Homo sapiens: one gene and its partners. The protein of the gene in region 3 interacts with the protein of the main gene of each other region in a biochemical or structural test. Each region holds a gene or a part of one and is shown on either strand. Other genes may lie near its edges. The genes, in order: PDZD2, LDB3 and IGSF5.

Region 1 (3,655 bases), on a different chromosome or scaffold from region 3:
CCGAGAGCGACCCAGGCTGTGTGGGGGGTGACCCTCCCGTCCAAAATGGCTTGAGAACTGGGCTGGCATGGAGTAGGTCCTGGTCGCTGGCCTTGGGGTGAAGTAGAGATGGTCCTCCCCCGAGGGGCCCCCTGGAATGCTGTTTCTGGGCACCCCTCGGGAGTCTGACATCAGGCTTGATTTTCCCTGGGAGTATTCTGCCTTTCTAATGGCTGTTTGAAGGGAGGAGGAGGAGGACGCCAGTTTTGCCATGCTGAATGATCGTGACATTTCCTGCTCTGCCTGGGAGGCATGAGATGGGAGTGAGGATGGATGACTTGTGGATGATTCTGCGACCTGGCGATAGAGCCTGATTTCACTCTTCTCCTGACAGTTGCCCTGGGCCAAGCACCCTCCCCGTCTGTCGCTTTCAGCTGGCTTGTTACCACATACAGTCTCTGACACTGCTTCAGCAGAAATCTCCACGATTTTCAGCTGGTTTGTTCTTTCGAGGCGATCGCTGGCCATTATGTTGCCTCCTTTTTCGCCAGTCGGCCTGGGTTGGGCTGTGTCTGCTGCCACATGGCTGGCCAGGCGCGGCTCACTCTGTCTGTTCCCTGCCACGGACATGCCGTTCCTAGACGCTGCCGGACTCACCGGCCCGGAGTCAGCACGGGGCGCCCTGCCCTCTGCTCTACACTTAGGAGATTTAGGGGTGGTTGGGCAACCTCTGTCGGGTTCAGAGAGGACAGCCATGTGGAACCTGCTCCACATGCCTTGCTCAGGAACAGGCTTGGGAGAGGTCAGGGGCGAGACAAATGTCCTGATGCTCGTGTCAGACACTGAGGGTTTCAGTGGCCCAGAGGTGGCAAGAGGTGGCTTGCTTTCCAGCACACACTGGGGGGACCTGGGGGCAGCTGTGGTGTTTCTGTCAGGGTCCTCGTGGTCGGCTACATGGAGCCGCTGTGACACTGCCTTAGAAAGTGTTTTGTGGGAGGTCTGGGGTGAGATCAAGGGTTTCCTGTGGTCCGTCCCCCCAGCCTTCACAGCATTCGCAGCAGGGGCCTCAGAGTTGACTTTGGCCTTGCCCTTGAGGCTGAGCCTCTTCAGCTTCGGACCACACTTTGCCTTCTGACCATTAGTCAGAAGCATTTCTGCCGGACTCTTCTTAGACAGGTCCTTATTTTCCAGGTTTGTTTTCGGCTGAGGAGGGCTATGAGGCACAGTAACGCCCTTTTTTTGGCTTGAACTCACCATCTGAATCTTGGAGTCGGGACTTCTGGCAGGCATTAGAGGTTGTTCCTTCTCGGTTTTGCTCCTCAAATGTGTGCCTTGGTTATGTTTATTTATTTCTTTAAACCAGGCCATGATGGGCCTCCTAGCGATCATTTTTGGTTTCTGTAGCAAGTCATCCAGGTCTTGACTTTCAGAGATGTGGAGGTTTTCCAAAACAGATTCTCCATTCTTAGGGACATCCACACTGAAGGAGGACAGACTGGCAGCTGCATTAATGCTTGTTTCGTATTGATTCAGGGTTTCGTCATCTAGCAGGTCATGTTCCAAGCCATTTACCATGTTGGGGGAGCTGAGAATGATGGGCGGACTGTGAAAATGCCTGGCTACTTTAGACAGCGGACTGTTTTCCATGGCTGAGCTAGCGCTGGTGACTTCTGTGGTTTCTTCTGCACACGAGGGCCTGTGGTTCTGTGAAGTGCTTATGTCCGCATGAGTTTCATGCTCCTGAGAGCTCATCTCCAAGAGTGATGATGGCTGGGAAGAGTCTGGGCCTGAAGTGTATGAGCCTGGCAAGCAGGCGGCCTTCTCACGGGGACTGGCCACCGACTCTCTCGGAGTGCTGTATTTTAATGACAGAACTTTGGCTGAGGCAGGACAGATGGCAGCCTGGGTGGGAAGATGAGCAGGACTCGAGGGTGGATTGGGGCAGCCACGTGTGGAACAAATCTCAATCTGTTCCTCTTCTGACTCCGAAGGATCTTCCTTGTGCAAAGACACACGGGAACGAGGAGGGGACCAGCCGTCCCTGGCAGAAGCTCGTGGGGCTTCAGTGAGTGACTCAGGGTCAGAAGAAGAATCCTCAGCATCGCCATACATGGATGACAGAGACGGCTCCGTGCTGTCACCCAGGCCTGATAGGGAGGTGCTGTCTTCATGAAAACTGCTAAAATTTCTAGAGTAGTTGCTCAGAAAGTTTTTGTTCACAGTAAAATGTTTGTCGGGATTAATTGAATCTAAAACCGAAGGCTGGGAGGCCCATTGTGGGTAGGCGGGGGCACCAGCAGCCCAGGCCCTCCTCGGGGAGGAGGTCTGGCCCCCCGGGACTGGTTCGGCACGGCAGGAGCTCCCACCTCCAGCCCCGGCTGGTGGGTGGCCCTGAGCACTGCCCTCCTGAGAGCCACTGTCCCCCGTCTGGGAAGACGGAGACCTTGCTGCAGAAGCATCCAGCTCCTTGATGAAGCTGTCAATGTCCGTCACAGGGCTCTCTCTACTCCCCCCTGGGCAGCAGTGCCCCGAGACATGGCCACATGCTTCTTTGGTGTTGTCAGTGGATGGCAGCATGGAGAGGCTGGCCTGCGGTGCCCTTGAGGACACAGAATCTGCTCCCTCCAGCAGGGAAGGCTCCTGGGAGCTTTCAGGTGCATGGATTCCTGTCATTTCCAGAGCCTTACTGTGGTTACCTGGAGCTCCCTGTCTCTGCTCCTGGGATGTGAGGGGGTCTCCTGGCAGGACAGCACCAGCTGGTGTCATTCCCTCTGCTCCAGGTCCCGCTCCCCTGAGGGCAGCCACCCTCCTGGTATTGTGGGGTGTGCTGGTTTCCGATGCTGATCGAGTCTTGCTGTAGTCAGGGGGAGCCGCTGCTTTCTCCCCCGGGGAGGGGCTGCCCTCATGGGGGAGCCTGACTGGAGACCTGGCCTTGCACTTGGTGACCCTGGGCGATGCAGGCTGGCTGGGATTCTCTGGCCGACTGACTTGCCCTGTGTCTACAGAGGTCTTGCTGGGGTCAGGATGAGCGGCCCCCTTCTTCCCTGGGGAAGAGATGAGGTCTGAGGAGCTGTCCAGTTCTACGTGGGGAACGTAAACAGAAGGTACATACACAGGAGAGGTTGTAGGGGAGATAAAAGGGATAATATAAGAAAGCAGCCCCTCAATTATTAAAAACTAGAAAATTATAAACAACCTCAAATATTTTTTTCTTTTTCAGAAAGCTGGGCGTGGTGGCGCATGCTTGTAATCCCAGCACTTTGGGAGGCGGAGGCGGGTGGATCACCTGAGGTCAGGAGTTCGAGACCAGCCTGGCCAACATGGTGAAACCCCATCTCTACTAAAAAAAAAAAAAAAAAAAAAAAAATTAGCTGGGCATGGGGGTGGGCACCTGTAATCCCAGCTACTTGGGAGGCTGAGGCAGGAGAATTGCTTGAACCTGGGAGGTGGAGGTTGCAGTGAGCCGAGAATGTGCCATTGCACTGCAGCCTGGGCAAAAAGAGCGAAACTCCGTCTCAGAAAACAACAACAACAACAACAACAACAAAACGGCGTTCTGTGGCCTAAATGGAGGCCCTTCTTGTCTTCCTGGTTTTCTCTCTAAAATTATAGAGTACCCACATCTAACAAATACCACCCTGCTTTAGACGCTCTAAGAGAACTCAGATTAGCCGGC
Region 2 (3,655 bases), on a different chromosome or scaffold from region 3:
AAGCTCCAGCAGGATGCCTGGTGCCAGGAACTCCCCCTTGGGCTAAGGTTGAGGTCTGGGAATCACCAGGCTTGTCAGTAGGTTTACAGGGCATTTTGTTAGACAGTGTTGGTTTTGACCCAGTTTTCCTTTAGGGTTGTTTCTGGGTCTTTCCACAGACAGGCCTGGGCTGCTCAGGGGGTTGGTGGGCATCTGCCAGACTAAAATGAAAACAAGTGATTTCATACTTAGAAGCCATGGACCATGGGTGCTGTTGTTTGAATACAGTATGTTTGTGTGCATGTGTGGTGTGAGCTTATATACGTGAAAAATACACTTTTATTTAAAACTAAAGTAATACATACTCATTAGTGAAGAATTGGAAAACACAGAAAAGTAAAAATTAGAATATAAAAAAATGTCTTCATAGTCCCACTGTTCTGACTGCTAACCTGGAACTAGACAATACAAGTTTGTATCCTGGTCTACCACTTACTAGCCCTATGGCCTTAAACAAGTTGTTCAAACTCTGTGTGCCTCAATTCCCCTATCTAAAAATGGGTATTATAATAGTACCTAGTGCGTAGGATTGTTGTGAGAATTAAGCAAGTTAATAAATGCAAAAGTCTTCTTGAATAGAGCCTGACACAGAGTAATCACTTAATAAATGTTAGCCATCAGCATCATCATTATTGCATTTCTTACTATCATTATCAGTGGTCAACTGAATTCTATAATATGTTTACCCAGTCCCCTATTGGTAGATGTTTGAGTTGCTTCCTGATTTTCTTTATTGTAAGTGATGCAACAATGAACACCTTTCTGCATGGAGCTTTCTCTGAATTTCACATTACTTCATCAGAACAGTCACAAAAGTCAGAGTTATTGGGTAAAAGTATAAACAGTGTTGGGGTTCTTCAAATATCTAATTCCAAGTTCTGGGAGCTGCCTTACTGGGTGCCATTCTGTGCTTCCCCAGGGGCCCATTTCTGGTAGCCATGGGCCGTTCTTGGCACCCTGAAGAGTTCACCTGTGCCTACTGCAAGACTTCCCTGGCAGATGTGTGCTTTGTGGAAGAGCAGAACAACGTTTACTGTGAGCGATGTTATGAGCAATTCTTTGCCCCGCTGTGTGCCAAGTGCAACACCAAAATTATGGGGGTAAGTGGGAGGCCTCCATTTCCTCTGACCCATGTCTCTTCCCCAGCCCTTCCCCAAGATCGTGGGATCCCATTAGGAAGCCAAGAAGTTGCTGGTAACAGAGAAAGCAACTCCATTTTTATCCTAAAAGGGAATTGGTTTGCCACCAATAAACTTGGGGATAAATGAACTTGATGCAAGAGATGATTGTGTGCCTGTTCCACACAGCTTGAAGTGGTGGTGGAACTTCTGCAAAGCAAGTGGTTGCTTCACAGCCTGACCTTACCACTCACCAGAATGTGGCCTTAACCCTCAATGCCCCTTTGGTAAATGACAGTAATAAGCAGTACCTCCTCCCAGGTTTAATGGGAGGATTAAGCCTCACAGTTTATGTAAGAAAGCACAGAACCTGGCACCCAGCTGGAGAGTGACAACCCCTTCTCTGACACCCCTGGGTCTTTCTTCAGAGTGACCAAGGCCTGCATCCTGAGATCTCCTGCCCTGTTCCCTGGTAGGATGCTCGGGCAGTGGCTGGAGCCTGGTGGGGTAGTCAAGCCCGCTCCCTCTCTCCTTTCTGTCCTGAGCTTAGGCTCTTTCCCCCAGGAAGTAATGCATGCCTTGAGACAGACATGGCACACCACCTGCTTCGTCTGTGCGGCCTGCAAGAAGCCTTTTGGGAACAGCCTCTTCCACATGGAAGACGGGGAGCCCTACTGCGAGAAAGGTAGGAACACTTCGATGGCATGTGGGGAGGCCCCACAGCCTGGGAGAAAGGGGCAGGCACAGGGAACTAACTCCTGCCTAATCCATTCACATCCGACCACCCAGAGGCCTTTATTTCTGGAAGAAACCTTTGTTTTTGCTTTTAATGGCAGAATCATGCTAATATCACACAAAGGAAGTTAACTATCTCCCCTGCCCATATGGTTGCAGCTTTGGGGAGAGTGAGGTGCAGAGTCTATAGCTTATTTTATGCATCAAATATGTGGATCTGGTTAGGTGAGGTGGCTCACACCTTAATCCCAGCACTTTGGGAGGCCGAGACAGAAGAATTGCTTGAGCCCAGGAGTTTGACACCAGCAACATAGCAAGACCCAGTCTCTACAAAAAATATAAACATTAGCCAGGTGTGGTGGCGCGTGCCTGTAGTCTCAGCTACGCAGGAGGCTGAAGTGGGAGGGTCGCTTGAGTCCAGGAGTTCGAGGCTGCAGTAACCTGTGATAGCACCACTGTATTCAGCCTAGGCAACAGAGTAAGATCCTGTATCTCAAAAAAAAAAAAAAATGTAGATCACAAGTTGGCATCTTATGACCACTGGGAAACCTTTCAGGTTATTTTGATTTGGAGACCACAAGGTCTAGTCTGAAAAGGCCTTGGCTGTGGACTTTGTCCTTCATTCTATTCCTGGTTCCACTTTGGGCTGCTTTGTAAACCTGAGCAAGTTACTAACCTTCTCTGAGCCTTACTTTCCTCGTCTGTAAACACCTGCCTTACAGAGCTGTGGTGAGGATTAAACCAGAGAAGGCGTGTAGAGCATCAAATATGCGAGACCCCTTCCTCTGCCCCTGTGATATTTATCAGACTTTGATGTTCCTGCAGATTCCTGTAATCTCACGGAGTGAATTCAGAGTTTCTCTGTACCCCCAAAATGCTATATGTTATCTTAAAATGCTAAGTAAATTATTGTAAATTCAAGAGACAAAGCACTTCATTAGATAGGTGGAAGTCAGTCACTCATTTATTCAGAGGCTTCCCCCTTCAGAAAGGATTTGAAGCAGGTTCCAGAAAAGGTAACACAGACATGAAGGCTAAGACAGTAGAACCAGAAAATCAGAGGCGGGAAAAGCAGGCATGCTGATTATGAAGAATAACAGAGCTGCAGGGACTAACTGGGTAGCAAATTTGAGGGCAAAAAGAGAAACACAGTAAGTTAGTTTACTTTAAAATCAGAAAGGAGAAAACATTCAGTTCCTCAAGGGAAAAAGCAAAACAAAATAAAACTTCTTTCCCCTGACTGTAAATTAGAAAATAAACGTTTTGGCTGGGCGCGGTGGCTCACGCCTGTAATCCCAGCACTTTGAGAGGCCAAGGCAGGCGAATCACCTGAGGTCAGGAGTTCAAGACCAGCCTGGCCAAAATGGTGAAACCCCATCTCTACAAAAATACGAAAATTAGCCGAGCATGATGGCGGGCGTCTGTAATCCCAGCTACTCGGGAGGCTGAGGTTGAAGAATCGCTTGAACCCGGGAGGCAGAGGTTGCAGTGAGCTGAGATACTGCCGTTGCACTCCAGCCTGGGCAACACAGTAAGACTCCATCTGAAAAAAAAAAGAAAGAAAGAAAAGAAACGTCTTGGGTTCTTGTACTAGTGAATGCCCTTCCCAGCTCTGAAGTTAACTGAATGACCTGAAACAAGTCACTTACTCTGTGCCTCAGTTTCTATATCTGTAAAAGGGAGAAGATAATACCAGACCTTTCCTTTCTCATGAGCATATGATATTGATCGGTAGTTAAAGAAAGAGCTGTTATGCTTATACA
Region 3 (2,855 bases):
TTAAGATTATAAAAGTATTTTATACATCATGGTAGTGTAAGACTTCTCTACCATTTGTTGGATTAGCAAGCAGGAGTGAGTGATTAGAAACACCATGACAAATTTGCATCTATTACTAAGTATCCGTAAGGAATTCACTAAAATCCTGACATATTTTAAAAGTCAAATTCTGCTTTAGCAATAGCATGGTTGAGCTTGAGGGACTCAAAGCAGTTGCTAATTATAACCAGCATAGAAATCTGCACCAACCAGTTCAGAGTACGGTCAAATCACAGTCTTGCCCCTAGGTTAAATATGAAGGGGTGGAATGGGCAGTTAAATTCACTGACTGTATCTACATGGAAAAAGAAAAATACTGGGGAAAGGCAGCAATTTATTCTTCATAACAACATTCATGTTAACTTTAAATGAAGTGAATGTACAGTCAGCAAAGATAATTGTGAAGATGTGATGGATTTTTGCAGAAGGCTCTTGTTTTCCTTCTCGGAAAAGGCTTGATTCCCGAATACTATGATTCTTTAAATGACCAACTGAATAGTGAAGAGTTAAGAAAGGCAATACACATTTTTGGTGTTTTTATTAATTAAAGACTACAATGCCCATTTCCAGTTTTTTCACGGTGTGCGGAGTAGGTGAGGTCCATCCTCTGCAAAGCATAGGCCACATCTAATTCATTTGAGGAGATGCAAATAGGTCTGATAAAGGGGCAGATAAAAATGAATGCCTTCATGTAAATATTCAATCATAAGATATTTAGGAACGTGCACATCCATGTTAGAATTGAATCTTACTTTAACTGAGCTCAGTTTTGACAGTCAATTGCAGATTTCTGGTTGACCCTAATTTTTATACTCGTATTTCACTGATAATATGTAATAATACCCCTACATATTAAATATACATAAATATCATCTTCATATGCTTTCAGATAATAAAAACTTTTGAAAGGCATGGTAGAATACAGACTTTTATCTACCATTTGTTGGATTAACAAGTAGGAGTGTTGAATGTTGAGAAAAATTATGATGAATTTGCAGCTTTTACTTAGTAACTTCATGGAATTCACAAAAACCATGAAACCTCTTAAAAGTCACATTCTACTTTGAACTCTGGGAAAATCGATTCCTTCTCTCACTGTCAAGTATCAGTTCTGATGACTCCGACATCTCCTCTTCAGGTAATGTTGGCAAAGCTGCAGGCCAGTCTTAGGATGGAAAGGAAGGATGCCATCGCCGTGTTTTGAATTGTCAGCCAAGTGCTCAGTGGAGCTTGGGGAAGGCTTTGCTATACTACAGTTGTATTACTGACCTTCTCAGGACTGGCCAGATTAAAAGAAGCCTGTGGATGACTTGCTGGCCTGGGTGGACGTTGATCAGCCCGCTGGCAACAGAGGAGGAAAAAAGTCAATTTAATGGGTTGAGATCACTGTAAAATGCAAACTTGAAAAGAGAGCTTCACTCATCTGTTAAGATAAAATTAAGGTACGGAGAGGAACAAAAATGTTAAAATAAGCTCTTCCTTTCTTGCATTATTTCTGGTAACACACAATATAGAAGTTTTCCAAGTTCAGGCCCTAAAGGGCAATCCAATTCCAAGAATCAGTATTTGTTTTGACTAAGGCAAATTACCACGACTCATTGTTTTGTTTTGTGTTTCAATTTTCCTAAGGAAGTTCTTGCTTTACTGGCTAGATTTTTTATGAAAATATAAAATATTTCTAAACTTCTTAAAGAGCGTGCATTGTTTCTAGAACAGGGGGACAAAATTGAAGAACTGACTCCAGATAGATCACCCACCTGTCTCTTTTCCCTATCAGGGAGAAACATAGTCTTCCCTGTTCTCATTCAGAAATGTAATCCCAAACAAACCATTTAATCCTCCAGAGTGGCCAATGCCTGTCTCATAATATTGCCTTATTAAAATGTGTGCAACACTTTTTTCCTGCCAGTCCTGAGAATGGCAGCTCAGGTTCCAGGGCACAATAGCTGCACTTAACATCTTAAATAATGTAACTGGGCATGATAAATTATTCACAATGTGATGGAATGCTAGCAAGTCTTGAGGATAGAATTACTCTGGCTCACGCTCTTAATTTGTTGACTCCCAATAACACAGGGAAAACTGGACAGCGGATGGAACTATGTCAGCAGTGCTTTAAGACATGTGCCTTCTGCTGCTAATATGCTAGAGATTCCTACTGTCGTTTGCTTTTGTTTTCACTGCTGGGTTGTGCAAACATCGCTGTTTTCTAAATTTATCAAGTATGTATTTCTGTTTGTCTCAATGAGGGGGTGATTTGTGGGGAAGGCTTGATCCAGGTCTCAAGTTGTTTATATGCCCATCTTCTGAAAATGACAGAGACAGAGAATTTCCTAAAACAGCCAGGAAAATGCACTGACAGTGAGTTAAGGCACAGGACAAAGAGAGGAAAAGGAGGATTCTTTGTTTTAAATATTCGCCAAAATAAAAAACATTTGCAAATCCCCTGGCTTCATATTGAAATAAAAAAGCATGCCTTTCCCAGTAATTGGTTATTTTAGTAGGAATTTCTAATTTTACTTATTACTTTTACCCTAATGTGTTTCAGCTGCAGTTGCACCCAAATTCATTCTGTTTCACCAACAGGGAAACTCTTGTCTAGAAAACCATGTCAGTACTACATATTCTAACTGTAGATTCAGTCATCAGAGAAATAATCAGAGAAGAAAATTGTCATATTGTATATGACAGTTTTGAAAATGAATCTCTTTTTTCCTTCTGACCCTTCTTACAATTTAATCCATGATTGAGATCTCTACAGTCTAGGTTTCTATTTTTTCATTTACGTTGAATGCAATGTGCTTTAGGACCCATCT

The links.
Region 1: the proteins of IGSF5 (region 3) and PDZD2 interact in a test that uses a peptide from one of them, tested with the Homo sapiens proteins (one large-scale study listed by IntAct).
Region 2: the proteins of IGSF5 (region 3) and LDB3 interact in a test that uses a peptide from one of them, tested with the Homo sapiens proteins (one large-scale study listed by IntAct).

What each region holds. Positions count from the first base shown.
Region 1 is NC_000005.10:32,086,535-32,090,189, reverse strand, and holds part of PDZD2 (PDZ domain-containing protein 2), read right to left. Parts: intron 3,060-3,655; coding exon 1-3,059.
Region 2 is NC_000010.11:86,717,006-86,720,660, forward strand, and holds part of LDB3 (LIM domain-binding protein 3), read left to right. Parts: intron 1-958; coding exon 959-1,139; intron 1,140-1,721; coding exon 1,722-1,842; intron 1,843-3,655. UniProt on the Homo sapiens protein: May function as an adapter in striated muscle to couple protein kinase C-mediated signaling via its LIM domains to the cytoskeleton.
Region 3 is NC_000021.9:39,799,787-39,802,641, reverse strand, and holds the end of IGSF5 (immunoglobulin superfamily member 5), read right to left. Parts: intron 1,381-2,855; coding exon 1,285-1,380; 3' UTR 561-1,284; downstream 1-560. UniProt on the Homo sapiens protein: Provides, together with MAGI1, an adhesion machinery at tight junctions, which may regulate the permeability of kidney glomerulus and small intestinal epithelial cells. Mediates calcium-independent homophilic cell adhesion.